Linked DNA regions of Homo sapiens: regions 2, 3, 4 and 5 are each linked to region 1. A link means that fine-mapping ties the variant in region 1 to the plasma level of a protein whose gene starts in the linked region. Region 1 holds a variant in brackets. A gene starts in each other region. All regions are shown on their reverse strands. Distances are from middle to middle.

Region 1 (5,928 bases):
CGCTGTGGGTGCCTGGGACCCGCAGGGAGGATGGGCGCGGTGGCGCGGCCTGGCGGGGGGCTCGTCTCCGGGGTCCCCGGGTCCTGGTGAGAGCGGGGTCCCTCGACGCCGTGGCGGTCTCCAGCCTCTCCTCGCCCCTCCACGCTCCCCGCCTTCCATGAGCTGCTATTTTCAGCACCTACCGCCCGACCCTGGACTAGGACAAGGCTCTGGGCTGCCCTGCCCGCCCCCCAGCCCTTCCCTCGGGCACGGCGGCCAGGCGCCCGGGTTGACCGGGAACAGCCTCCATACCCCAAACGCGGAGGCGCCTCGGGAAGGCGAGGTGGGCAAGTTCAATGCCAAGCGTGACGGGGGAACTGTGCCCCGGGCCCTCAGGTGATATAGGAGTTAAGAAGAAATTATTGAGGCAACCAGATGCGGTGACTCAGGCCTGTAACCCCAGCACTTTGGGAGGCCGAGGGTGGATCACCTGTCCTTAATTTTCTTGGCGCCAGAAGATGAATTGAGTATTTACCCAGACAACAACGTCGCTTCAGAGGGAGGGATGCAGAACGCAGGGCCACGGGG[T/C]GCAGGCTGCAGGCCAGTGAACCCCAACGCCAAAGGCCAGGGAGAGCCGGGTGGGGTACCCAGAGCCAGCACACAGCCCTTTAATTTAGAGGAGTGCTGTGTACACATCTGGGGAGAGATGTTTTACTTTGATTTGGAATCAGGTGGCGGATAAGGCATACTGAGGCCTGACTTGGTGAGGGCTCCTGCCCCGGAGGTGCAGCCCTGGAGGAGCGGGAGGCAGAGGAGTGGAAAATTCATGAAGAAAACCGGGTATGGTGTAGGTCGAGGCCCTGCCCTCAGTAATGCTCACCATTTGTCAGTGTTTACTGTGAGGCAGCACTGTGTTCAGTATCGCTGAGTTCTCAGGAAGGAACGGTAAATACTTCCCGGGTCATTCTTTCACCCACGGGAAAACAGGTTTGGAGAGATCTGGGACAGTGCTCTGGTCCTAGGCAGGAAGGGCTGAGTGGGGCCTGGGACTCAGGTCTGACTGCAAACACCTGCCTCCTCCCTGTGCTGCCAGCGCCTTCCGGGTTCTTCCCTGTCCCTCCTTTGTGGTCTTTGTTTTCCCTTTTTTGTCTTAATATGTTTCAACGGATGTATACAATAAACCGCACATGAAAGGTACAGCTGGATACATCTTGACCCAGTCAAGATGATGAACACAGCTGCCACCCCAGGAGTCTGTCCTGCCCCACGGGTTATGCTGTCTTAGTTGGTCTCATGTCAGGGAGCCTTGGAGGACCAGGGTCGGGCAGTTGGTCTCTATACTCCTGGGGTTCTGGCACTGGCTCTGGCCCATGACCGCACCCAAGACAAACGTCTTGAAGACTAAGAGGTTAGGTCTTTGAGAAACCTGGCAAATGAGTGCCCATTCTCAGGTTACCCACATTCTGCATGTTGATTTAGTCATCCAACCAATGTTGGTTGAACACTGATGAGAACAAGCAGGCCTGTGCTAGAAGGTGCCTGCAGCCAGGAGCTGGTGAGCTGGTGTCCTTAGGGACACCAATGGCGAGGGACCCAGTGTGTGGAAATCTGGGGGACAAGCATGCCAGGGAGAAGAGCTCACATGGGGAAGGCCCGGCTCCACAAATCAGTCAGGCTTGTTGGGGCGGGCAGGAGAGCAGGGTAGTGGAGTCAGAGGGAGTGATCCCCCGAAAGGCAGGAAGAGGACATGAGAGAGCCTTGGAGATGACGGTGAGGATGTGGTTGGTGGGCGGTGAGCTGGGTGTCATGTGCTGGCTCCTTAGAGAATGCTCAGCTCCTTCACACCCATCATAATCCCTGGAGGACTGAGACCACGTGCAGGAGTTTTGGAAGCTGGCAGTGCACCCAGTCCCGGCTCTCCTCCATTCTGGTGGGTCTCACCAGAGATTGGCCAAGAAGAGATCAAACTGTTCCTGGACCAAACTGAGGGTGGGGCTGCTATCTCTCGCGGCCCAATAACGAGATGCAGATGAACTGGGGAGAAAGAGAGTTTTTATTTCTGTAACCAGTTACAAGGAGAAGACCTGGAAATTATCTCCAGACCAACTCAAAATTACAAAGTTTTCCAGAGCTTATATACCTTCTAAGCTATATGTCTATGTGTAAGTGTGCATTCATCTCAAGACATAAGTAATTGACTTATGTTAATCTATAACTAAGGTCTGAGTCCTGAAGACCTTCCTCTGGATCCTCAGTAAATTTACTTAATCTAAAACCCTTATCTTGTCTCCTAAATCATGGGGGTTTGGGAAGTTCCTTCAGACCCCCAGTAAACTTATTTGTGGAGTCCTGGGGAATTTCTTCAGATCCCCAATAAAACTTGTTTAATCCTAAATGGGTCCTGTTAAGAATTCCTTCGTTATTTTGTCATGCTTGAAGGCCCAGGAAAGGTCTAGGCAAAACTCTTGGTGGGATTTTGTTATATTCCAGCCTTTTTATAAGGGCACTGGCTTTTAATATTTAATTTAACCACTCAGTCAGTACTGAAACAGTTGTTAGGGAGGCCTGCGTTAGTGAGACCTGACCTGCCACAACACATCTTACTCGGAATGCTGCCCATAACTTCAAAAAATCAGCTTTGACGGAGCCCTACTGAACACACCTAGCATCTCTCTTCCTTCAGCTTAGGGTCAAGGGGCTGGGGTTGATGGCACCATTGAAAGAAACAGCTTTATTGCCGTGTCATTGATATGCCATAAAATTCACCTGTTTCAAATGAATTATTTTCAGTTAGTTTACAGAGTTGTGAAATAAATTTTATAACTTTTCCATCCCCAGCCCACCAAAACTCCCTGGAACTCCTCCGCAGTCATTCCCCATTCCCACCTGGCCTCAGACAATCACTTTCTGTCTCTCCAGTCTTGCCTTTTCTGGACAGTTCCTATGAATGGAGTCCTGTGTTACATGGTCTTTTGCATCTGACTTCCTTCACTTAGAATAATGATTCCGAGATTCATGTATGTTGTAGTATGTATCAGTATTTAATTCCTTTTTATTACTGAATAATCCATTGTACAGATAGACCACATTTTGTTTATCCATTCATCAGCTGAAGGACATTTCGGCTGTTTCTGCTTTTTTAGCTATTTTAAACTGCACGCAGCACTGCTATGAACATTTGTGTACAAGACTTTGTGTGAACATGTTTTCATTTCTCTTGGGTTGATACCCAGCAGAGGAATTGCTGGGTCATACAGAAAGTCTGATTTAACATTTTAAGAAACTAGCAAACTGTTTTCCAAAGTGACTGCCCCATTTTACATTCCCATCAGCAGTGTATAACGGTTCTAATTTTCTTTTCCTTTTTCTTTTCTTGAGACAAGGTTTTGCTCTGTCACCCAGGCTGGAGTGCAGTGGCATGATCTTGGCTCACTGCAGCCTCAATCTCTTGGGCTCAATTGGTCCTCCCACCTCAGCCTCCTGAGTAGCTGGGACTACAGGTGAGTACCACCACATCCAGCTAATTTTTGTATTTTTGGTAGAGATGGGGTTTTGCCATGTTGCCCAGGCTGTTCTCAAACTCCTGGGCTCAAGTGATCTGCCCACCTCGGCCTCCCCAAGTCCTGGGATTATAGGTGTGAGCCGCTGCGCCTGGCTGAGGGTTCCACTGTCTGTACGTCTGCAGCAATACATACCATTCTTGTGGGTAAAAGGTGGTATCTCATTATAGTTTTGATTTGCATTTCCCCAAGGTCAAATGATGGCAAGTGGCTTTTCTTGTGCTTTTTAGCCATTTGTATATGTTTTTGGTGAAATGCCTATTGAAATGTTTTGCCTTTTTAAAAATTGAGTTGTCTCCTTTGTTCAGTTTTGAGAGTTCTTTACATACACAGTATCATATATATATATATATATATATATATATATATATATATATACACACCAGATATATGATTTGCAAATATTTTCAACCATCAATAGTTTAACACTTTTTTATTGGTATTTTGAAGTAGAAAAGTTTTACATTTTGATCCATTCCAATTTATTAACTTTTTCTTTTATTGTGTATCTGGTATCATATCTAAGAAATCTTAATCCAGTGTCACAAAGATTTAATCTTATATTTTCTTCTAACCGCTTTCTAGTTTATGTGTAAGAATCTGTCCATTTTACCTAAGTTGCATAATTTGTTGGCAAACAGTTGTACATAGTATTTCCTTGAAATCCTTTTAATCTCTGTAAGATTGGAATTGCTGTCTCCTCTTTTAGTCCTGATTTTAGTTATTTGTGTTCTCTCTCTCTCTGGTCAATGTAGCTAAAGCTTTGTCAATTCTCTTGATCTTTTCAGAGAACTGCCATTTGATATTTTTTTACTTTATCTTTTTCTTTCTGTTCTCTAGTTCATTGGTTTCCACTCTTCTCACTTTGGGTTTAATTCGTTCTGTCTTTTCTTATTGTAGTTACTTACAATGGAAGCTTACACACTTGATTTAAGATTTTTTTTTCTAATGTAGACATTTACAGCTATAAATTTCCCTTGAAACACAGCTTTAGTTATATCTCATAAATTTTGGTATGTTGTGTTTACATTTTCATTCAGCTCAGTGTATCTTTTGATTTTCTTCTTTGACCCATTGCTTATTTAGAATTATGTTGTTTAATTTCTATGTATTTATAGGTTTCCCAAATTTCTTTTGTTAATTTCTGATTTCATTCCCCTGTGGCTAGAGAAGAAACTCTGTGGATATCAGTCCTTTCGAATTTCTCAGAATTGTTTTATGGTCCAGCATATGATTGACCTTGGACACTGTTCCATGTGCACTTGAGGAGAACGTGACTTCGGCTCTTGCCAGGTGGAGTGTTCTAGAGATGTCAGTTGGTGTCCAGTGATGTCAAGTCATTTGTATCTACTGATTTTCTTTCTAATTATTCTATCCATTACTGAGAGTGGGGTAGGATTTTGGTGTCCAATTATTGTTTTTTTGTTTTTTTTTTTTTGTTTGTTTTTTTTTTTTTTTGAGGTGGAGTCTCACTTTGTCACCCAGGCTGGAGTGCAGTGGTATGATCACAGCTCACTGCAGCCCCCACCTCCCAAGGCTTAGGTCACCTCAGCCTCCTGAGTAGCTGCAACTACAGGCAAGTACCATCATGCCTAGCTGATTTTTGCATTTTTTATAGACAGGGTTTTGCCATGTTACTTAGGCTGGTCACGAACTCCTGGGCTCAAGTGACCCACCCACCTCGGCCTCCCAAAGTGCTGGGATTACAAGCGTGAGTCACCATGCCTGGCCCAACCATTACTGGTGAATTGACTGTTTCACCCTTCAATTCTGTGAGTTTTTGCTTCATGTATTGCTGCGGGATAATTAAGGAATCAGAGAGACCGATGGGGTTGAGGAGGAATTATTTAATTATTTAGGTGCACCGACCCAATCAGATTAACATCCAAAGGACTGGGCCCCAAACAAAGAGTCAAGCTACCTTTTAAGCATTTTGTGGGGTGGGGGGAGATTTGTGCAGGGGGAAGAGTATTACAGAAGCAAGAAACAAAGACAGTTATTCAGTTAAGACATGCATTACATTATTTCTTACTTTTCAAGGAACAACACGTTTTATGACTCAAGATTATCTGTTTAGTGACCTTGCAGCTGCACAGCTAGAGAAACAGAGTCTTCGCAATGCCTGGGAAAGGGAGAGATAAGGCTCACTAGCCACAGAAAAACAGCCAGTTAATTTTTAAAGGACTCCAGCCCTTTCTCTTCCTCAAGGGGAATTGGTTTTTTACATACAACTGAGTTTTTGCTTACACAGTTTTTAATTTCTTTTAATTCCTGTTCTAGTATTTTGGGGCTAGGTTGTCAGGTATGTATATATTTCTGTTTGTTATATTTTCGTGATGTATTCACTTTATATCATGGCAGAATGTTTCTCTTTAGTAAGATTTTTGAT
Region 2 (5,928 bases), not on the chromosome of region 1:
CATCACATCACAGGAGTCCCTATGTAAGCCAGGTGTGACCAGCTGTAATCTCCTCTCATTTCAGAGTCATTCTCCCCTCCTCCCTCTCTTCTCCTTCCCTGTCCCCACTCCGCAATTTGGTGTTCACTCTACTTTCCTCCATGACTTGACTGAGGGACTTGGGTGACTCCTCCCTGGAGATGACTCTTGGCACTGCTGGAGCATTTCATACAACCCAGGTCTCTGTTCCAGTCTTGTTGATTAAACCCATGGTTCTCCTCCAAGCATAAGGCTGGGCCCAACCATAGTCTCAACCAGAGAAAGGGAAAAAGTGACCAAGCTGTTTTCTTCCTCCATCCTTATCCAGAGAAAATATTAGAACCCCAGGAACACAGGAAGAGGAGAAACTAAAAAAATGAGCACAGACTTCCCGTTCTCATCACAGCGGTGATTTTTTTGGTCACTAGGTCTGGCCAGAGTTCCTCTTCTGTTTGGAAGAGCAGGGCATTGTCTGAGTGCCCGGGAGAACTGCCCACCTTCCTGACTGGAAAGTGTGGCCAAGGCACCTGCCTGCTTCTCTGTCTTTTCTCCTGCCAGGCCAGGTGCCAGATAGAGCATCCAGAGGTTTGCACAGGAGAGGTGCTCAGGAAAGACCTGTAGATGAGCATGATAATAGGAAGATGGCTTCTGACTCCCTCCCTCTCCACAAAGTGGGAAATGAAACTTCCTATGGTTTGGGACTTTTACATCCACCTCCTCTGAAACCCCAGAAGGCCCACAGCCCAGGATTCCATGCCTTTGCTCAGCTTCCTCATGCTGGAACAGCCTTTCGCCTAGCGGTAGCTATTCTACCTACCTCAGCCTGCATTTCCATCACTTGGAGTAAATGCTCCCTGCTCCAGCCCCTTCCTATGCCATGGGCCCAGCCGCTAAGGCTTCCTCATCCTTTCCTGGGACCAATGAGAGGGCATCTGGGGGGCTCTATAAAGTATAACTCATACCACAAACCAGCAGAGAAAACCCAACTTCCTGACCGAGCGGAAATGGACAAGACACTTCCCAGGCACACTGTGTGGCGGCTTCTTTCCCGCAAATGCCTCAGGAGGAGACATGGACCCCTGCAAGGCCCCTTCTACCAGGGTCTTGAGTAATTTGGATTCTTCTCTATCCCCAGGCCCAGAAATAGGACAGGCTATGGATGAAGGGCCAGGAGCCAGGAGCAGAAGGGCAGAGATGATTCTGGAGTTAGGCTGGGTCCCAAGCATGAGAGTCCAGAAGTGGAACATTCTAATCCTGTCTAAGCCCTGATGGAACCAAGGCTCTGCAACCACACGAGCCACCTGAAGAGAGTAGGAATCTTCATGGACACCCAGAGGCAGGCAGTGATGTGGAGCCAGGCCCTCATATTCGGGACTATCAAATGTTAAAATTTAGAGCAGACAGCAGGCCTGGAAGTTACAGACAGGCTGGGTAGGGAAGCGATGGGACAGAACAAATGAGACACCATCTTTGCTACCCAGTTTCCTTCCCAGAGCTTCCCAGTGTGGGGTCCTCTCTGGGTTCCCTCATCCAGTCCGAGAAGCCACTCCAGCCTGAGGCCCGGTTAGCTGGAGAGAGAGCATCAAGGGCCTGTAACTACAATGAGCTGCACATAGGCATGGGCTGAGCGTGCAGCCACTATCCTCCCAAGTACCAAAGGTGGCAGTAGCCCCTGAAAGCATAGGTAGATATTTCCTTGGCCCTGTTAACTTAACCTCTAATCCTGGTCCCTGATACAGGCTGTCATCCAGCTCCACTGGCTCAGCCTCAGCAGGCCCAGGACAGCTTTCTTTTCCTGCGGCCAGAGCTTTTGTTCATTCCTGGGTAAGGAGTAAATCACACTTCCCCTTATGCTTTTGCATTGAAGATGAATGAGAACTTCTGGAGACAGTGGAAAAAAGCAGCAGCTTCTAGAAGGCAGATCCCAGGCCCCAGACTGTGTAAATGTCTGAGTGGCATGATCAGCTATCAAGTCTCCAAGTCACTTACCATTCACACATCCATCCATGCATCCTCTATCCATCCATTCATCCATTCACCCATCCTCCAATTATCTGGACCAATTTCCTTCTTTTTTCTTTCCTTCCCTCCCTCTTTCCTCTCCTCTTTCCTATATTCCAAGAAATATTTGTCTAGAGTCTGCCATGTGCCAAATTTCTCAGATTTGGCAGACTTCTTCAAAGCATGAGAAGCCGCCCAGGAGAAAATTTAGTCCTTCATTGAGCCCAAATCAGCTCTTCTGTGCCCTGAGCTTCTTGCACATATGGAACTCTCTATTTAGGACTACAAAGAAGGAGAGAGGAGGTGCGGACAGAGAGAGAGGAGAGAGAAACAGAACGATTCCTAGTCTGAGGTTGCTGAGCGCCCCTACTTTTTTTGAAAATCTCACATGGTGCAGGAAGCAGGGAGGAGAACCCAAGTCTTAGGTTTACACTTTGAATCTCCAAGTTGCATATTATAAAGGGATATTGTATCAGCCAAGATGCATTAATAACAGGAAGCAGGATATTCTATTGCAATGGTTGCCTATTTGGTATCTCTGCTTCCAGGCTTCTCCCCACCAGTCTGCTCCTCACCAGGATCAGAGTGATGTTTCTACAGTGTCCCTGTCCTTGTCTCTCTCCTGCCTGAAGTCCTTAATTGGCCCCATGTCACCCACAAGCCAGAGGTCCAGCTCCTTGACATGATCAGAAGGATCTTCATCATCAGACCCCAGGTGCCTCTTCAACCCCGTGTGCATCCCCTTCCTGTTGGAATGTATATTTTACATTCCAGCAATATTGCAACTATTTACAATTTGCCAAGCACTCCATGCTATCTTATGCTCCATCCTTTGGCATATGCTTATCTTTCTACTGGATTTTTTTTTTTCCCATTACTCCATTTCATATGCTTCTTTGAACTGGGCATATTTGTCTCTTGTGCTCATCACCTTGCAATTTATTTGCTCATGTCTGTCTTTCCTACCAGACTATGAGCTGCTTGGTGCAAGGACTGCGAGTTATTCATCACTGTGGCCCTATGCCTGGTAGAGCATCAGTACCTAGAAGGCACTCAGCCTGTATTTGTGGGGTGAATGGATGGGTGGATGGATGACGAGAGTCTTACAAGAGAAATGGGATAGGTTTGGGACAAGATGGTTAATGTATCCATGTAACAGACCCCCAGAGAAGACAACAAATGGCCTCTTCCTGAAAGCTCAGACTTCTGAGGATGGGAGTAAGCCAGACAAGGTATCTAGTCAGGAATAGGGAAGTTGGGATGATATGGTGACCTGCTGTGGGACTGACTTCCTGTTTCCTCTAGATAAGAGCCCTTGGAGAGACAGGCAGCCAGAAGCACCTGTGCTCCCAGGATAAGGGTGAGCACTCAGGATGACTGTGGAGAAGGAGGCCCCTGATGCGCACTTCACTGTGGACAAACAGAACATCTCCCTCTGGCCCCGAGGCAAGCCACATCGCTGCTGAGAACCTGCTCCGTGTTCTGTGTGCAAACCTGCCCTTTGCTGCTCCTTCAACACACATTTTCTTCTTCTTCCAACAGAGCCTCCTCCCAAGTCCGGTCCATCTCTGGTCCCGGGGAAAACACCCACAGTCCGTGCTGCATTAATCTGCCTGACGCTGGTCCTGGTCGCCTCCGTCCTGCTGCAGGCCGTCCTTTGTAAGTCCTCATGTTTCATCGTCTGGGCTTAGCCCCTCTCTGTGGCCAGCCGGCTCCCTTCAGATCGAGACCACTTCCCTGCTCTCCGGGTTTCTCCTGCCTGTGGCTTTTTCATTTGTCTCCTTCCTCCTCTTTCCATGTGCAGTAACAGGCTGTGCTGCCCCCAGTACGGTGAGCTGATGCTCTTTCCCTCCCAATTTCTGGGAGATTATTGGGATTAGCATTTGCACATTGGTGCTCAAGGATACATTCTTTTGTCCTCAGGAAACATTGATCTAGTTTTACATCCTGTGCTATTTTCTCCCCGTCCACCCCCCACCAATCTGAGCTCTGCTCCTTGGATCTAGAGCCTTGTGGACAGTCCTTGACAGTGCAATGTCTCCTGACCCTGTGAAGGACCGAGCCTCATGTATCATTGGCCCCAGCTCACCAGATGGAGAGCCTGGCCAACGAGCCAACAGATCTCCATGACTCAGTCCCCTCTCCCCAGGACTCGTTGGTGCTGTCTTCATTCTCCTGTCCCTGTGAAGATCACATCTAGGGAGGCTTCCTGCTCATTTGATGTTGCATGGTTTATCTTTCTTCCTTTTCTGGCTCTGTCAGGCTTCATGGCCTTTGCTGCTGGCAGAGCCTTCTTCCTCCTGCCAGGGCTCCAGGAAGCAGAGCAAAGGGACCCAAGAAGCTGTTGGGTTTTTTTTTCTCCCTCTGTGGCCTCGGGACATATTTGGGCTTAGACTTGTAGGCTCTGAGCAGAGTCCCCCTTGCCCCATCCTAGACCCCTGGCCTCTAACATCGCATTTTCCTCAGGGCTCGCCTTTGAGCCTCTTGGTTTATCTTTGATCCTCTCTCTGGTACCCAGGCCTGGGACCTGAGCAGAATGTGAAAGTGGGTGGGGCAAGGGAAGGGGAGAAACAGTTTTGTAATCTCCTCTTCCATGTTCTCTGGAGAAGCCACTTCCAGATTAGTGGCTGGTTCTTCCCATGGTCACAGAGGGGCCCATGGACAGATGTGGGGGAGTGGTGCTGTCCTAGCAGATGGCCACTGCAGGGGTTTCTGAAAACAGAGGGATGGCAACCAAGGGGTGGGGTCTAGGGGGAATCAAGTTCTGGGGACAGTGGTGGGGCTCATGGAGGGCACCCTTTATCAAATGTTCCCTGAACACTCAGAAAATTCAGGAATGGTTTCTAACTCCTGCTTCTGCTTGCCTGTGAAATCTTTTCACAGAGAGCCTGTGTTTTATCAATCTCCCCATTATCTGTATCCACCTGTGTTCCTGGCACATGGTAGGTGCCCATTGCACGTTTGTTGTACGTTAATGAATGATTGGAGGGTTGGGGTGGCCCATTGGACTGTCTTGGTTCTTTGGGAAGCTTCAGCCTATTCCTTCCCTTCCTTTGATCAACCTGACAACACCCCCACTCCTGTCCCTGGGACTCCCCTCAGCTGACCTCCTGACTTTCTCAATCCCAGATCCCCGGTTTATGGGCACCATATCAGATGTAAAGACCAATGTCCAGTTGCTGAAAGGTCGTGTGGACAACATCAGCACCCTGGATTCTGAAATTAAAAAGAATAGTGACGGCATGGAGGCAGCTGGCGTTCAGATCCAGATGGTGAATGAGAGCCTGGGTTATGTGCGTTCTCAGTTCCTGAAGTTAAAAACCAGTGTGGAGAAGGCCAACGCACAGATCCAGATCTTAACAAGAAGTTGGGAAGAAGTCAGTACCTTAAATGCCCAAATCCCAGAGTTAAAAAGTGATTTGGAGAAAGCCAGTGCTTTAAATACAAAGATCCGGGCACTCCAGGGCAGCTTGGAGAATATGAGCAAGTTGCTCAAACGACAAAGTAAGTGACTCAGAAAATTACATTGAAGCTGACCAGTGGCCCATGGGATCTTACCTGTCCCAGACCTGAGGCCATTGGGCTGGTGGGTTGGGGAGGAGAGTGGGGGCAAAAGAGGGGCAGCCATGGGCTAGGAAGTTAAGGAGAGAGGGCTTGAGGTTGGGGAGGACTTAGGGGCTGTTAGGAGAAAAGAGACCAGGGTCCAGCTAGAGCTCCCACACAAAAGTGCAGAATGTAAAAGCATTAGGGGATGTCCACCCTGGCCCACACCTAGTCATTTCCCATCAAGTTCCTTTCTAGAGTCCAGGGGCTCAGCCACTTGTCATGGCCGATGGAGGGTTGCTTCCTCATCATGGGGAAGACACTCTTTGTCCAACCTCTTGCATTATAACCTCTCCAGTCCCAGAG
Region 3 (5,928 bases), 36 Mb after region 1:
TTAAATACAACTGTCCTGGCTAGTAATACCACATTTCTGTAATGCATTTTTTTACAGATGTGTATAAATAGATATAAATAGGTGTCCTAAGTTGGAGCAATAACGTCTTCCACCCTCTTGCTTATTGGCTTTCTCCCATATTTCTTCTGCATTTACATATTTCTGGTATAATTTTAGATTTGGGGCACACTTGGTTTGAAAAGGGTCTATGTTTTCTCCACTACTTTTGTCTCACATTCCAAAAAACAAAGGGGATGCCATTCTTCAGGGCAGCACCTGCCACTCATCTGCTGTCAGGCTATTGCTTAAGGCACAGATCTTAATGGCCTGGCAGGTTTCTCCACCCTACAATCTTAGGGAGCTGTGGCCCAAGGGCAACTGTAAAACCCACGTGTTAGAATAACTTAGCTTTCTTGTGATAGACTGAGTAAACAAATAGACAATGGCCATAGTATATGGCAATAGAACTCTGACCCACAGAAGAAATGAAGCATAATATCTGCAGAGACCAACTCAGAACAGTCAGGACTTACTCAGTGGCTGACAGCTTCCTCATTTTTGCCTCTGCTTCCAACCCAGGACAAACCAGAAAAACCAAATATACTCCACAAACAAATCACATAAGACGCTCCATCTCTAGTTATCCCTCCTTCAGCTTCTCCATGACGACACTCTGCAAAGAGGACATAGCTGAAGTTGCCCCCTTTTTCCCCTAAAGCTTTTCTTCTCCCTCGTCTTTGAATTATCTCCTTTGTTATAGCAAGTTCTGAATATATGGCCTCTGTTTGTTCTTAGGTGGTGGTCTTCATTTATTTCCACATGTGAATGATGATTGTGTTCAACACAATGATTAATTTTTAAAAAAGAAAAAAAACAGCTATTTGCAGTACAAGATGCTTTTTTTTTTTTTTTGAGACGGCAAATTTGCAGTACAAGTACAAGATGCTTTTTTTTTTTTTTTTTTTTTTTTGGGACGGCATCTCGCTCTGTCACCCAGGTTGGAGTGCAGTGGCGCATGCTCTGCTCCGCTCACTACAACCTCAGTCTCCCAAGTAGTTGGGACTACAGGCATGCATCACCATGCCTGGCTAATTTTTGTTTGTTTGTTTTGTATTTTTGGTAGAGGTGTGATTTCGCCATGTTGCCCAGGCTGGTCTCAAACTCCCAGGCTCAGGAGATCCACCTACCTTGGCCTGCAATACAATATACTTTTGTATTTTTTATATAACCACCTGACAGCTTTGGCCCCTAGTTGTATTTGAGAGGGAAAAGCTGCTATTTATTTAAAGGAAGGACATATAATTATTAATAAATTGATTTTTAAAAAGATGTATTTGCCTGATGGTGCTTCTGAAAAGTTGTCAGTTTAATTGTTTTTAATTTGTTAAAAGAAAATCCATAGCCAAATTAAATTTAAGAGAATTTAATTGAGCAAAAAACAATTCGTGAATCTGGCAGCCTCCAGTGCCAGAGTAGGCTCAGAGAGACTCCAGTGCAGCCACATGGGGGAAGATTTATAGACAGAAAAGGGCAAGTGAGGCACAGAAACTGCAGGATTGGATACAGCTCCATGTTTGCCTTATTTGAACATGGTTTGAACAACTGAACCTCTTTGATTTACAGAAATTCGGGGATAGGCACAAGAGCAGGCTACAGTCTGTTTACACCTCCATTTAGATTACAATTCGCTATGTACAGAGAAACCTTTAGGCCAAACTTAAATCACATGGGGAGGCAGCTTTAGGCTAAACTTGATTTCACAAATTTTCAAATTAACAAGTAAAAACTGTGGATATTATTCAATTTAATCTTTAAGAGTTTATTAATCAATATGCATTATAACTTCATTTTTGTAAAAACAAAAAAAGATATGCCTAGAAAAGGGTTATGGAGAGGGCACAAGGGACGTTTATTTTCTAAAACATATTTTTTATAATGGATTTTTTTATATAACTTTAAAAAGAATTAGAAACGTTTCTGAATTATTAATGATTTCCTTAAATCTTTAGCTACATATATTTCTCCATAAAGAGCAGTTCCTCAAACTGCATCACCTCAACCCTGATATTATATATTTTTATTTTTATTTTTATTTTTTGAGACAGAGTTTCGCTCTGTCACCAGTCTGGAGTGCAGTGGCACGATCTCAGCTCACTGCAACCTCCGCCTCTCGGGTTCAAGCAATTCTCCTGCCTCAGCCTCCTGAGTAGCTGGGACTACAGGCGCCCGCCACCACGCCCAGCTAATTTTTGCATTTTTAGTAGAGACAGGGTTTCACCATGTTGGCCAGGATGGTCTCGATATCATGACCTCGTGATCCGCCCGCCTCGGCCTCCCAAAGTGCTGGGATTACAGGTGTAAGCCACCGCGCCCGGCCGGTATTAAACATTTTTAAAGTAAATTTATTAAATCTCAAAAGAAGCACACTTTGAATACTGAGGAAGAGACGTTGTAACCCATAAGCAGAGAGTAGGTAAGTAAAAGCAATTTCCACCACTCTCAGACTGGGCGTAGTGGCTCACGCCTGTAATCCCACCACTTTTGGGAGGCTGAGAGGGGAGGATCGCTTGAGGCCAGGAATTCAAGAGCAGCCTAAGGAAACTTAGCCAAACTCCATTTCTACAAAAGAAAAATTTTTAAAGCAATTTATTTCACCATTCTCAACGCTTTTCTCTTTTTTATTAACCAAATATTTCTGTAACTCTTTTTTTTTTTTTTTTTTTTTTTTTTGGTATTGAAAGACATGGGAGAAGGAAGAATTCCTGAATGCAACAGACTGGGAAGGACGCACCACAAAACGCTCCGCGGTCTCTGGACACCCTATCAGCTAGTCCCGTCCCTCCTGGTGTCCGGTCTCGACCATCCATCCCGTGTTTTGGGAGTGCCTTTCCTTACCAGATTCTTCTAAAGCCCTGATGCACCCACCCTTAAGTGGAAGGTAATGCTTCTGCTGGGGGCTGTGCGTTCTTCCACTCCGTCCCACCTTTGCCGTGGACTAAACAGGAGCCACTGAACGAGAGTACCCTGGCTCCCGGCCCTGCAGATTTTCACCAAAAACTCTAGGACTAAGTTAAAGTAGGGACTGAAATACCACACAGAGCTCGCTGTAAACCACCCGCTCAGCGCAGTAAGTCGGGATAGTCAGTAGATCTGAGCCCTTGAGGGAGGCGCCTCCCCCTCCTCCGCGCAGCCCCCGGGCGCCCGGCCCAGCTTCCCGCAGCCAGGGTGTATTGAGGTAGGCGCGCCCAGACCTGAGACGGGTTGGGACTGGGCTGCGTCACGCGCGGGCTCTAAGCGCCCGGGGCCCCGCCCAGTGGCCGGCACAGCCAATCGCAGCGCGGGAAGGCGGTGGGGGCGGGGAAGGCCGCCTGGAAACTTAAATCCCGAGGCGGGCGAACCTGCACCAGACCGCGGACGTCTGTAATCTCAGAGGCTTGTTTGCTGAGGGTGCCTGCGCAGCTGCGACGGCTGCTGGTGAGCGCCCCCGACCAGACCGAGGGACAGGGCGAAGGGGGACTGGAGGAGGGAACCCCCCTTTAGGGACACTGAGAGGAGGCGGGCGCTTCTGGGAGTGAGAGCTTCTGCCCGGAGCTCTGCCAGCCTCGAGGTGGGGAACGGGGGAGGGCGGTTGGAGACCCCAGGGAGGCGCCGGCACCACTGGGAGGGCCCGGGCGGGGCAGGTCAGTCATCCTGTGGGCTGAAGCCGGACCGGACCGGGCGGCTTCATGCCCCCAGCCTGGCCGCGGAGCCCCCGCTCCCTGCACCGCCGCAAACATTCTCGGGGCGCGGCGGCGCGTGCAGAGGGCGAGAGCAGGCGGTGCGGCCCCGGTCCTGGCCCGCCCGGAGCTCCGGGAGCTGCCTGCCTCGGTCCGGGCCCTGGCCCTGGGGCCCCTGGCTTCCAGCGGCGCGGCCTTGTGACCCTGCCCCGGTTTAGGGGAGCGAGTAGCACAGACCCAAGTGTGGGACGGCGGGAATAGTGGGTGCTCTCCTTCCCAGTGTCTCCTGGAAAGGGATTCCCGAAAGGTTTTATTCCAAAAGGAGAGGTTGGAAGACATAGCTCATCTCCTGCTGTGTATCAGCCAAGAAGGTGTGAGGTGGTGTTCCTTGGGGATCCGCTTGCATCTACTTGGGATGGTACGTCTTCATTAGTGAGGTTTTGCCTGGATGACCTCAGTACAATTGGTGCAAAACCTGGACCAACTCTTTCCTAGTTTTCTAGTTGTTGCCTTAAGCTTCTCACCCGTCAGGTATCTTTCACACCCTTCTCATACCCTAAATTATCGCATATGCTGTTTCAACGCCTCCAACTCTGCAGGCTGCTTTTAATTTTGGTGGGCCCATCAAATACCTCCACTTGGCCTGTTTCAGCCTCTTCCACAGTCCTTGGGGAAATGCTAGGGAGAATAATTGAAATATTTCTATTCCACGGGGGCTGTAAGATGGCTTTTTAGGATTGGTCTAATCAGATACTCATTTCTTTTCTCTTTCTAGGTTTTGAAACATGAATCTTTCGCTCGTCCTGGCTGCCTTTTGCTTGGGAATAGCCTCCGCTGTTCCAAAATTTGACCAAAATTTGGATACAAAGTGGTACCAGTGGAAGGCAACACACAGAAGATTATATGGCGCGGTTGGTAACATCTGAAACTGTCCAGAGGGACTCTGGAGAGAATGGTCCTCGCTGTTGGGAGTTGATAGCCAGAGAGTAGCTTCTAGACACCAGACCTTACCAGGCAATAACCTAACAGCACCCATTATAGGTGCAATATGGGCATATATCTCCATTGTGTCTTGGCTTGGAGAACAGCTCCCAGAGAAGTATCAACCCATCCCTGGCCATGGTTTCTCTTCCATTTCTGCCCGCAAATCGGCTTGGTGAACATGGGTTGGGTAAGTAGACATAAAGTCCACCAGCTATATGTTTGCCTCTAGAATGAAGAAGGATGGAGGAGAGCAGTGTGGGAAAAGAATATGAAAATGATTGAACTGCACAATGGGGAATACAGCCAAGGGAAACATGGCTTCACAATGGCCATGAATGCTTTTGGTGACATGGTGAGTGTGGCAAGGATTGCTGAACTCTGTGCTGCTTCTCAGTTCTTCACCAAAATAGTCTTGCTTTTAACATTTTATTTACTTCTCCTTGAAGACCAATGAAGAATTCAGGCAGATGATGGGTTGCTTTCGAAACCAGAAATTCAGGAAGGGGAAAGTGTTCCGTGAGCCTCTGTTTCTTGATCTTCCCAAATCTGTGGATTGGAGAAAGAAAGGCTACGTGACGCCAGTGAAGAATCAGGTGAGACAGCGTCAGATTCAGACCCTGTCTCCACAGGAAAGCCAAGAAGGAATTGGTGTCATTGCTGTGGTAGATGGTGGCACAACATATGGTGATGGGTTTTTTGTATTTTTGGTTTTTGGTGTTTTTTTTGTTTGCTTGTTTGAGACGGAGTTTAGCTCTTGTTGCCCAGGCTGGATTGCAATGGCGTGATCTCGTCTCACTGCAACCTCTGCCTCCTGGGTTCAAGAGATTCTCCTGCCTCCACCTCCCGAGTAGCTGGGATTGCAAGTGCTCACCACCATGCCCAGCTAATTTTTGTGTATTTTTAGTAGCGACAGGGTTTCACCATGTTGGCCAGGCGGATTTCAAACTCCTCTCCTCAAGTGATCTGCCCGCCTCGGCCTCCCAAAGTGTGGCGATGGGTTTTTTTTTTTTTTAAAGAATATTAAGGTAATTCAATTATGGGGTACTGTATTTGTATTGGTCTTGTAAATTTACAGCTTTTTTTTTCTCCCTTTTTAGAAACAGTGTGGTTCTTGTTGGGCTTTTAGTGCGACTGGTGCTCTTGAAGGACAGATGTTCCGGAAAACTGGGAAACTTGTCTCACTGAGCGAGCAGAATCTGGTGGACTGTTCGCGTCCTCAAGGCAATCA
Region 4 (5,928 bases), not on the chromosome of region 1:
TGGGTTTAATTTAGTTGGATGGGACTGTAGTAATAACGTTTCTGTACATTTGCCCAGAGGCCTTCAGCTAATGGGTGTATTCTTTACAAGCCAATAAACAGATGAATAAAACCAGCTTGACATCTCGCATCTCTGTCTCTCTCCTCTTTCTTTGCCCTTTGCCCATCTTTCACAGACATTTTATAAAAACGAAAATTTTCCTGGGTAACTCAAACATAGATTGCCTTCATTAAGTCACTTCTACACGCGCCAGTCAGTCCCATGAGGGGCTTTCTTATTGCTGGAGAATGTGTTGTCTACCCTCAGGAGATCCAGCCTATATGGGATGGAAGTATGGATTGCTACTCAGTGAGTCAAAAAGAACCCCAGAAAATTATGGACTTGTAACTCTGGATGGCATTTGCTCGTTTCTGACCATTGGTGCTGATTTTGACTTGATGTCATTAAATGATTAATTAATGTACAATGCAACAGAGGCTGACAAAATCACCCTGAGAAAAGCAAATCTGAGGATCTCTAAGCCTGGGGATCCAAACCTGGGCTCTGAGAACAAATGGGGAACTGTAGTAGAATAAAGGGCCCGCCATAGTTGCCATGAAAAAATTAACCAACCTTGGCCAGGTGTGGTGTCTCACACCTGTAATCCCAGTACTTTGGGAGGCTGAGGGGAGCAAATCACTTGAGGTTAGGAGTTCGAGACCAGCCAGGCCAACATGGCGAAACCCCCTCTCTACTAAAAATACAAAAATTAGCCGGGCCTGGTGGCGGATGCCTGTAATCCCAGTTACTAGGGCAGGAAAATCACTTGAACCCAGAAGACGAAGGTTTCAGTGAGCCAAGTTCACGCCACTACACTCCAGCTTGGGCAACAGAGCGAGACTCTATCTCACAAAAAAAAAAAAAAAAAAAAAAAGAAACTAACCAACCTTGAAACAAACTGCATTCTCAAAAGTCTTTAAAACCCAACAATATATGGTTGTCCTGCTCTTCTGCCAGTTCCTGTCTCACTACCTCTCCTTTCCTTCTAGGATGCTACTCCCTGCCTGTTCTCTTCTTCAGCCCTGCTCTGAACATTCTGTTCCTATTTTCACTGCCCCAACTCCAGACTACCTCCTACAACCCCAGGAGAACGCCCCCTCCCACTGCCTGGGGAGGCTCTCCTAAACTATAGCCTCTAGCCAGGCCAGCACATTGAGGTCATTGCTCTCCCTGCCAAATGACTGGCCTGAGTTCAGTGTCTCCATCTGTCTGAGCTTCATGGAAAACTTGATTGTTGCTCTAGGCTCTCTATTCTATGTCCTGCCTTAGCTATGTCCTGCTTTGCATCTGCTTTTTTGTTTCTTCTCCCAACACCCTTTTCTTCCCCTGACTCTCCTCAGACTAGAATCACATCTGTTTTCTAGTCTCAGCCCCTTCACTGGGGAGCAGATGGAAGAAGAGCAAGTTCTGGGGCAGGAAGATCAGGAAGAGCTGGGCGTAGCACTCAGCTTGTTCTGCGGACTGACCAGATTCCATGTATCTTAGAGATGTAGCACTTACAGCTCCCTCGGAGGTCCCAGAGGTGCTTACAAAGTGCGATTTGCTTATTTCTGTGTCCACTGCTCTTTTTTCCTCTCAACTAGACTCCTTCCTTCCTTCTTTCCTTCTTTCCTTCCTTCCATCATACCCCCTTTTATTTTCTTCTAGTATGTAATTTATTAATACTATCTGCTCTCTGTCTACCTGTACTCTTCTCTAATTTATTTCATCAGGGAGATATATAATGTAGACTAAAGGGGAGCCAACAGGAAACCTGAAACTTACATATTTCTATGGCATACAAGGTCCACCATTCCTCAGACTTGAGTTTCTGTAATTCAAGTTTGCTCTTGAATCCAAAGCGGGAATGTTTTAGTGGTTGAACCACTAGAGTCTCTGTGAATAAGAAGAAATACAAAGCCTTTAAAATTCCTGAATCAAGGCTGAGCAACATAGCAAAATCCTGTCTCTACAAAAAAATACATCTAAATTCGCCTGGCATAGTGGCATGCACCTGTAGTCCCAGCGACTTAGGAGGCTGAGGCAGGAGGATCACTTGAGCCCAGGTCAAGCCTGCAGTGAACTGTGATCATGCCACTGTACTCCAGCCTGGGTGACAGAGCAAGACCCTATCTTAAAAAAAAGAAAAAATCCTGGATCAGAGAAAGTGTTATCTACACATTATATGATCTAAGGAAAAATATTGGTAGAAAATGAGGCAAGCATAATAACCTTGCCTTTCAATTTTCTTTGGGCATCTGATTGCATTTTATCCTTAAGAGCCCAGAAACCCAGATTCTTAGTTAAGCTCAAACAAAGCCAAAAGACAAAGTAAGGCTGGCACCCCTTTCACAGAGCTTCTCTACATTTGAAAATGATTTGGAGAGTTCTGAAAAGTTCCTCAACTTTTTATAACCCTAAGGTAGCCAGCCTTCCTCTTGGACAAAACTCATAAGGTATCTGTGTTCGCTTGGTTGTGAGAATACATAGGATATTCCAAGGGGAAAAAAAACAAGAAGAGTCTAAATGTGTAGGTCAAGAAAGAGGCAGAGATGAAAAAGAAATACAGGAATAAAAAGAAATTTGTTAGTGCTGAAGAGACGAATATTGAAAAAGAAAGTGAGAAAGAAGGATGAAGGAATGATTCAAATATGGAATATAAGGAGGCTGAGGCAGGATAATTGCTTGAACTCAGGAGGCGGAGGTTGCAGTGAGCCAAGATCACATCATTGCACTCCAGCCTGGGTGACAGGAGCAAAACTCTGTCTTAAAAAAAAAAAACAAAAAACAAAGAAGAAGAAGATAGCCAGAGAGAGAGAAACAGCATCTATAATGTGCATTAAAACACACCAAGGAGGAGACGGAACTTTTCGGTAAGAAAGAACCCAAGGAACAAAGGGGAGCTGGGACCAGATCGTGAGAGGAGGGAAAATAGGCTAATGGAAGAAAGGCAATACATGAGCTGGGGCCAACACTTCCAGGGAGCAGCAAGAGCTCTCACCAGTGTAGTCATAACATTTGGAATGAGGGTGTGAGCAACTGCAAATTCCCATCTCCCTTCTCATTCCAGCCTCATTGTAACACACATTCTACGCCTAGCCTGGCTTTCTTGCTCTCCCTCATCTCATTGTTTCAGCGGAGGCCAAATCTGAAGTCCTTTCCAGGGAGTGGCTCTGTTCATCTTATTCGCCAGCCAAAGTAGGAACAGCGTAAGAGGAGAGAGACACATTCAGCAGCCAAAGGACTCGGTGGAAAGAGCAGAACACCATAGACAGTGAGTTATTTGATTACCTGAAACCCTAAAGAGACAGAGGGAATGTGTGTATGTCTGTGTGTGTGTGAAAGGGCTGGAGGGGGCAATGGGGAATGTCACTGAACTTAGTCTTGAGCAGACCTCCCAAATAACCGTGGAATTCTGATGAAGGAGACGCCAAGATGAGCAGATGATATGAAAAAGTCACGCATATGAGAAAGGAAGATTCCACATCAGGGGTGAAAGAGGCCAAAGGGTAGGGCCAAGTACGGACCATGTAGAATGTAAAATTTCCTCTGACTTGGTAGCAGAGAATAATAAAAGCAAGAATAATGGTAAGTGACCAAGGAATAGATTTGAGGGAGAAATGAATGTTGGGTGAAAGGTAAGAAAAGAGAGAAAGGGTTTGAGTCATAAGGGAAAATGAAGAAAGTTCTGGGAAGACAAAGAGACAGGGACCTCAGAGGCATCTTTCCCTGGCACTGAAATGCTGATGTGCCTCTGAGCATCACATTCTCTGCTATGCCCACCACCCCTATAGATATGTCGCTCTTGGGACCCAAGGTGCTGCTGTTTCTTGCTGCATTCATCATCACCTCTGGTGAGTCCTTTATTCTTTGCTCCCTAAACCCTCAGCTCCTCAGCTATACACGTGTGTGGCAGGAGATGGGATGGAATGAGGTCGAAGAGGAATAGCAGTAGAGATGCTTGGTATTGAGCTCTGGAATTCCTATTAGAAGAACAGATTTTGTGTTAAGAAAAAAAGTTCAGGAATGTGACTAGACTTCAGACTAGGGGAAAGGCCTCCCAAGAATTATGAAACTAAGGTGCAACTAAGATACACACAAATGCATATTAACCACCCAAAGAGGGTCACATATGAGTAAACAAATTGCAAAGCAAAAAAGAAGCTGATATACAAATGCATACACAAACATAGAGGAGGGACTACCTAGAAAGAAACTGGACCTGGGCTGGGCATGGTGGGCTCACACCTATACTCCTAGCACTTTGGGAGACTGAGTGGAGAGGATCACTGAGACCAACCTGGGCAACATAGTGAGATGAGTTAACCTCATCTCCATTAAAAAAAAAAAGGAAAAAAGAAAAAAAGAAACTGGACCAAATGTAAATCTTGAAGAAGAACAGTGGGAATACATACACTATTACCATCATGCATGCAGGTATACTCACATGCATGCAAAAAATATATGCCATACTGACACACAAGAGAAAAGTGATCTTCACAGATTTCCCAGAATCTGGCTAGAAGACTGGCCACAGAAAGTGAACTTTAGGCTGTAAAGATGTCCTACTCTATTTTTTTCCCTCCTTCTTCCGATACAGATTGAGAAAAATAATTCTTCTGTCTTGTTCACTAGCATAGCTAGCGGGGAAGCCGTGGGGCTAGAAGGGCTGCCAGGCCTCTCAGTGGAGCTGGACTTCATTCCTGGCCAGGAATGAGGGTAAGAGGGCAGCAGGGCTTTGTTCTCAGGAACTTGTCTTTTTTTTCTTTTTACCAAACAAATGCACAGCAGTGAAGGAACTTGTCTTTCTGAAGTCTTTCTATTCCTATTGGTTTTGTTCATAGCACTAATGGTCTCAGTAATTTTATATTGAGCTATATAGGAATAAGTCACAAAGATAAAGTATAACCATTTCTCCATGATTTTCTGATTTGTCTCATAAAAGGGTTACGAGGTATAGAGCTGCAGTCACTCACATCTCTTTTCTCTTCCTTTGCTATAGACTGGATACCCCTGGGGGTCAATAGTCAACGAGGAGGTAGGTGAACCCTTGGATAGCGGCTCTGTTGGGGTTCTTATCAGGAAAATTTAGATGAACAGAGTTAAAAAATCCTTCCTGCTTATCTATCGCTGCCAAAAAAAAAAAAAAAAGAATATTTCCTACAACAAAGAGATGCATTGCCAAAGTGTGAGAAATAGGATCAACTTCACCAGTTTCCACAATCCTATTATCCCATTCATAAAAGCTTCTTGTGTGTGTGTTTTTAAACTACTGAAACACCTTCCCAAGACATCCTCTATGACCATTTCTGTTTTCATTTTTCTTTACACATCTCCTATCTTACTCAGAAAATGCTTACTAGTCCTTACAAAAAGCGTTCCTTAATTCATGTAACAGTGGAAAAATGAAAGACAGGATAAGAAGTCATCTTATACCCATAATCCCAGCACTTTGGGAGGCTGAGGCAGGAGGATCGCTTGAGCCCAGGAGTTTGAGACCAAACTGGGCAGCACAGGGAGACCTCATCTCTAGAAAAAAAAAAAATTAGCCTGGCATGGTGGCGCATGCCTGTGGTCCTAGCTACTCAGGAGGCTGAGGCATGAGAATGGCTTGAACCCAGGAGGCTGCGGTTGCAGTGAGCCATGATCATGCCATTGCACTCCAGCCTGGGCAACAGAGTGGAACTGACTAAAAAAAAAAAAAAAAAATTAGAAAAAAAGAAGTCATGTCAATCCTAGGTGAAATTGTGGCACAACTGAGCAAAACCCAAAAGGTATTTTTTGGTTTTTCAGCTTTTTAGGTAATTTTTGCTCACACCATTCTCTATAACAAAAATCCCAAAAGTTGTGACCCCTAGAGGACCACTTCCTTCGACTTCATGAAGAAAACTCCATTCTGCCTCAAGGCAT
Region 5 (5,928 bases), not on the chromosome of region 1:
ATAGCTTTCCATGGGCATTTAGTCAGCTCAGGAAAGCCACTCAACTCCATACATTGTCACACTTTATTTTGGTGGGATGTGTACCCAGTGTGATACTCTGTGGTGTGATCAACAACCAAATTTCAGATATTTTAAAAAATCAAATACACCCACAAGGTATGGAGATGAAGCAGTGGTAATGATATCTAAATAGATATTCCACAAGATCTAAAAGTCATGACATGAAAATTATTCCAGGTAAGTGTCAGGTAATAAAATCACCTTAGGTGACTAATCCTAGGAAAACAGAACTAATGTGAGTATATAGAATTGTTCTAATATACTTAAAAATAGCGATTTTACTAATATTCTAATTTAGTTCTCAGAAACAGAAAAAACAACAAAAAAAACTGGCTTCCATAAACTAATATTCCCATCTCATGGCCTTTACAACTCTGGCACTAATCATTGTAAAGCTGTGCACATTCTTTATATCCACAGGCCATGAGGAATGCCACAGCTAGGCCAGCAAGGATGCATTTGCTGACTTGCCCAGGCACGTGAAGGATGCAGGGCTGGCAATGATACCTCTCAAATGCTGGGGACCAGCTCCCCACCTGCCCCCTCTCTGAGAGTGTCCCAAACCTCTCTTCCAGTTCCTTCAGAACTTCCTATCTCTATTTACCAACTCATAGGTAAGGTCCCTACAATACATTCTCCTTGCTTAGGTGAGATGTACCCCTCTGGTAGGGCTCCTGCTATAGGTCAGAATTGCTGAGAAGGACTAATCCATTACAAAGCATATCCCTGAATGACTTAAGGACTTGCCCCATCTGAAGACATTTCATCAGTGGGCAAAACTCACCAAATGCTAGGCAGGAGGAGTGAAAGAGGAACAAACTTGGAGAGACTCCTATGAAATTTCAGAATTGCAACCATGCACACAAAAATCCTAAAACCTTCATTTCCAAAGAAAAGAGATCTTGATTAATAAAAAACTTTTCATCAGTAACATGAACCACTGGAAAACAATAGAGATAAGCTTTCCAAACATTTAGAGAAAATTATTTTGAATTTAAAATTTCATATCCAGGCAAAGCATAGTGGCTCATCCCCACAATCCCGGCACTTTAGAAGGTGTAGGCAGAAGGAGATCAGGAGCTCAACACCAGCCTGGGCAACATAGTGAGACCCCGTATCTACAAAAATATTTTAGAAAGTAGCCAAGTGTGGTGGCACAAGCCTGTAGTTCCAGCTACTTGGGAGGCTGAGGCAGGAGGATCGCTTGAGCCCAGGAGGTTAAGGCTGCAATGAATCATGATCACACCACTGCACTCCAGCCTGGGCAACAGAGCAAGACCTTACCTCTAAAAAACAAGAAAATTACCTTTGACCAGGCCAAGAAAATTACCTGTGGCTCATGCCTGTAATCCCATCACTTTAGGAAGCTGAGGCTGGAGGATCCCTTGAGCCTAGGAGTTTGGGACCAGCCTGGGCAACACAGGGAAACCTCATCTCCACCAAAATTTTTTTTTAAATTAGCTGGCCATAGTGGTTCACACCTGTGGTCCCAGCTACTCGTGACACTGAGGTGTGAGAATTGCTTGAGCCAGGGAGGTCAAGGCTGCAGTGAGCCACGATCATGCCACTGTACTTCAGCCTGGGCAACACAGCGAGACCTTGTCTCTAAATCGATAAATGAAATAAAATGAAATAAAATAAAATAAAATAAGATAGGGAAATTTCACATCCATCTGAATAACTAAATAAAAAGGTATAAGTATTTTGAGATATGCAAAAATTCAGTAAGTTTATAGCCATACGATCTGTATGAAAAGGTTATTCTAGGACATGCTTCAGTAAAACAAGCAAAAATGCAGTTAAAGGATGAAATGAGAGTGAAGAAAACGTTGCTGTTGAATGAGATCTAGCAGAAATAAAGAAAATGAAAAAAAATTAAAAAGAGACTCACTCAGCCTTAGAATTTTGGAAATATTTTGTGAGGGCACATGGAATTCACATTCTTTGTCCAAGTGAGAGACAATATTGCCTGATGGTTAGGACATGGGGTCTGGAGGCAGACTACCTGGAGTTAACCACTATCCATAGTTTGATTTGTAAACTTTGCAACCTTTGTAGTAGGTTCATACACAGGCACGCCCATATGAAGACACATACCAGCACGTAATCATCTGTAAACCTGGGAATCAACTTGCTGAAGCCAACTCCATTTTTACCCGAGTACCCCACAATTGCCGATACCAGTTTCTGATCTTCCCATACACCTTAACAACTTTCCACTTCTCCACTTCTTCCATTATCCTTCATTAGGTGAAAGAAAGCCATTTACTTACTCCTAGGCATACCTGAATGTTCTCTCCTATCTAAGACATTGTCATACAATGCCAGCTCCTGTCTCCCCTCCAGCCAATAAAACTAACAAAAGGGGATACGCTCTTTTAACCTCTTGGAGTTTTGTTTCTTTAAGGCAAAGATGTGATTTGCTAAAAAGACTGTTGCAAAATGATTTCCATAGCTTCCCTAATGTGTTTTTTCCAGGTACAGAATGCTACAGAGAAAAAAATTAAATACTGCATAAATACATTATCACATTAACTAGATATTGGTGCTATTACTTGTGTTCTGAGTTATACCCTTCTCCCATGCCCATATCATATCCCTTTTCTTCCACTTTCCTTCCTGAATAATTCTGACTAGATTTCAAGCACCAGATCAAAGAAAGACCAAAGAAGGCTAAAACCACATGCATTCTGCTAGCAAACTCTACTCAGCAAGAGAGACCCTGCCCAGTAAGAACGTGAAATGAACACCTTCACTTACTTGGATGACTGCTAGCCTTTCCTTTTTTCTTTAGTCCAAATCCAGACATTTCATCAGGGAAGTGTGTGGCAAATAGACGGCACTCTCGAAAGTGAAAGTAAAGCTTGAAAAAAAATGCTTTTATGTTTGGTGCATTCCAAGAAGGGCAAAGGGAGAAAACAAAAACAATCTCTGACAACCTCAGAGAGGCGTTTCAAACCGCCTCTGAAAAACACCTAGTTTTTATTTTATTTTAACTTTTTTTAAGCTGAGATCCTTGGATTTCATTGAAAGGGTCACAGATTTAGCAACAGCTAAAGTTGAAAGTGGGGACCTCACCATTTGATGTGGGCGGGTCTGGACCTCTGCAAGTTAAGGAATAACAGTGAATCCCTCAATTTTCTGCTAGACTCATGCGAAGCTGTCAGAATTGAGTAGTGTATGGTCACAGGGACAGAAAAAAAAATCCCTAATCAAAGCTGAAGTACTTTCCCTTCTTTCGTCTGGCTTTTATCTCTTTGCAACACTGTAAAATAACACCGGCAGAAATTAACCTCTTGATCCAGGAAGAAACTGAGTTTCACAGCAGAGAAAGAGCCAAACATGGCAAAGCTGAGAGCCAGTCCCACTCCTGCTGATCCACTTTTCCACGGTCAGACGCGTTAGGGAACAGATCAGTATGCCCAGAAAAGTTCAGATTAACTAAGAATTTCGTTCTTAATTTGCTTTAATGACTCCAACTAGTTAAGTAAATGTACTTGTTAAGAAATGAACTCACTTTTTTTCATTACAGATGTGCTATGATCTATTATAACTATATTGTTATATAGTGAAATATCACAATTGGAAGGAACTATAGACCACCTAATCTAACTCCCTTGTTTGAGAAATTAGGAAAACGAAACCTAGGGAGGTGAGTGGTTTGCCTAAGAACATGCCACAAGCCACCATATGCTTCAATCACACAAGTCATAAAACAACTGGACGGCTGGGACATGGCATTAGCTTGAACTCATTGCAGAGCTGATGGCAAGAAACAAGCGTGCATCATGGTGCAAAGTGCCCTCTTGTGGGCTCCAGCTTCAGCTAGACCGCTTTATAGTTACTGGGCTCAGGGCTACATGTCTCTGATTTTCATTTGTGACATCTGTAACATAACACCATAAGCAAACAGATGTCCTGAGTACGTGACTGTCCCTCACATCTATCCATTGGGATGTCCAGGAAAACTTCACTAATATTCAAAAGATTTCTTCTCTGTGAGCGCCTTGAAGGCAGGGTGAGGTTTATTCTTTGCATTATAGCTCCCCAGCAACCCTCTGAGGTAGACTGTTTCTTTGGCCTTCAATGAAAGAGACTCGTCCTCAGAATTCAAACCCTTGTGTGGCCTTCTCCCACGCTGACTCTAGGCTTGGCCATTTGACTAGCTTTGACCAGTGGGATATTAGCAAGCATGCAACAAGGTCTCATTGCCAAACACGATTACCCAGGCTTGAGAAGCAAGCAAATAAATGATTGTTGTTTTAAATTTAAAAAAATTGGAATGGTGTCATATGCATTATTAGCGAAATAAAACACATCATCTCAACAATCCTTCATACCTATCCCTTATGCCTTATGACTCCTTATACAGATTAAATTTCCCACGACTTTGGTTGACTAATGAATGGCTCTCGATAAATAAATTTTATTGATGGTCTCCTGATGCAGTAGTTTGGGCTTAATACCAGTTCATATTCAGATATTATTAGTCCTTAATTCTTGCTAGTTTCTAAATACAACACAGATTGTTTTCTCTCTACTGTACATTTCTTAACTATGTGCATTAACTTATTTAGCTATGATGGTGATTGGAGCAATAGTGAAAAACCTCATTTTTCCCCTTTTTAAAAGAATTAAGGCTGGGAGCAGTGGATCATGCCTGTAATCCCAACACTTTAGGAGATTGCTTGAGCCTAGGAGTTCAAGACCAACCTGGGCAACGTGGTAAAACTCCATCTCTACAAAAATTACAAAAATTAGCTGGGCATGTTGGTGCATGCCTATAGTCTCAGCTACTTGGGAGGCTGAGGTGGGAGGATCACTTGAGTCCAGGCAAATTCAAGTTTGCATTGAGTCATGAGTGCGCCACTGCACTCCAGCCTGGGTAACAGAGGGAGACCCTGTCTCAAAAAAAGAGAGAGAGAGAATTAAAAAAAAATGTATGCCCATAAATGTAAAATAACAAATTTAGTAAACACTGATATTTCACAGCATTACAGATCAGCCAATCTCAGAATAATGGGAAGCTGTATATTCCCAGCAAAACAGAGATCTACAGAATTCTAGAAGCCAAAGTCCCTTAAATTTATTCACATTCTAAAAACTCTAAGTTCCCTTCTTCCATTTGAGGGGCCTCTTTAATGAGAGTTTAGTAAGATAATATACACAAAATTTCTGGAAGAATCACTTGACAAAACACAGCAAGTTACAGAGACCGGAGTGACAAGCCAGATATAATTAGCAAATTACCACTCACATGCTGAACTACACAGACACTGTTCTTCTCTGCCCGTTCCTAATAACAATTCTTAATAAAACAGCCGTTTTTATTTTTTTTAATCTTTTTTTTCCTGAGACAGAGTCTTGCTCTGTCACCCAGGCTGTAATTCAGTGGCGCGATCTCAGCTCACTGCAAGCTCCGCCTACCGGGTTCAAGTAATTCTCCTGCCTCAGCCTCCAGAGTAGCTAGCTGGGACTACAGGCACGTGCCACGACGCCCGGCTAATTTTTTGTATTTTTGGTAGAGACGAGGTTTCACCGTGTTAGCCAGGATGGTCTCGATCTCCTTACCTCGTGATCCACCCACCTTGGCCTCCCAAAGTGCTGTGATTACAGGCGTGAGCCACTGCGCCCGGCCAATTACAACCATTTTACCTATAGACAAAGATAGTGTATAGTCTGTAGGCAGTCTAGTCAATTCATTATAAGATTTATAAGGGAAAGTTTATCATTTTCATTATCATCATTATCAGCACCTACAATACTGAGGCTTTACGGAACCATCTTTACAATCTCCCGAATGAATGAATTTAGACATGAGGATTGTGTCACCGCAGTTTCTAACCACAAATATAGAGAATTGAAATT

Alleles and levels. Positions count from the first base shown, and alleles are read on the strand shown. Strength reflects both the effect of a copy and how common the allele is.
For the plasma level of the protein whose gene starts at base 3,353 in region 2, allele T in region 1 goes with a lower level than allele C (strong association).
In carriers of allele T in region 1, the plasma level of the protein whose gene starts at base 3,403 in region 3 tends to be lower than with C alone (strong association).
For the plasma level of the protein whose gene starts at base 3,093 in region 4, allele T in region 1 goes with a lower level than allele C (strong association).
In carriers of allele C in region 1, the plasma level of the protein whose gene starts at base 2,913 in region 5 tends to be higher than with T alone (strong association).

What was found. PIP is the chance, under the fine-mapping model, that this variant and not a neighbour inherited with it causes the effect. Protein levels are from antibody-based Olink assays in UK Biobank. Linkage for the fine-mapping came from a reference panel and not from the study's own genotypes, which makes the PIPs less certain.
Region 2: CD207 starts here. The variant in region 1 is fine-mapped to the plasma level of the CD207 protein (UK Biobank, PIP above 0.99).
Region 3: CTSV starts here. The variant in region 1 is fine-mapped to the plasma level of the CTSV protein (UK Biobank, PIP above 0.99).
Region 4: it holds the start of MFAP5, and the variant in region 1 is fine-mapped to the plasma level of the MFAP5 protein (UK Biobank, PIP above 0.99).
Region 5: it holds the start of TLR3, and the variant in region 1 is fine-mapped to the plasma level of the TLR3 protein (UK Biobank, PIP above 0.99).

Annotation. Positions count from the first base shown.
Region 1 is chr9:133,269,054-133,274,981 of GRCh38, reverse strand. It overlaps the pseudogene ABO. Among named protein-coding and RNA genes, the nearest start is that of OBP2B, 63 kb to the right of the region's middle. RefSeq lists cis regulatory regions at 5,602-5,627, 5,666-5,690, 5,689-5,696 and enhancers at 5,441-5,928, 4,388-5,928. The variant T/C (reference allele first, on the strand shown) is at 568.
Region 2 is chr2:70,833,241-70,839,168 of GRCh38, reverse strand. CD207 (CD207 molecule) reads left to right here and starts at 3,353. Exons shown (of 6, transcript NM_015717.5): 1 at 3,353-3,465; 2 at 3,562-3,678; 3 at 5,149-5,523. The coding sequence starts at 3,393.
Region 3 is chr9:97,036,617-97,042,544 of GRCh38, reverse strand. It overlaps CTSV (cathepsin V), which reads left to right and starts at 3,403. Exons shown (of 8, transcript NM_001333.4): 1 at 3,403-3,474; 2 at 4,492-4,627; 3 at 4,930-5,052; 4 at 5,147-5,293; 5 at 5,798-5,928. The coding sequence starts at 4,502. RefSeq lists a silencer at 3,059-3,368.
Region 4 is chr12:8,659,991-8,665,918 of GRCh38, reverse strand. It overlaps MFAP5 (microfibril associated protein 5), which reads left to right and starts at 3,093. Exons shown (of 10, transcript NM_003480.4): 1 at 3,093-3,292; 2 at 3,813-3,872; 3 at 5,021-5,056. The coding sequence starts at 3,815.
Region 5 is chr4:186,066,141-186,072,068 of GRCh38, reverse strand. TLR3 (toll like receptor 3) reads right to left here and starts at 2,913. Exons shown (of 5, transcript NM_003265.3): 1 at 2,821-2,913.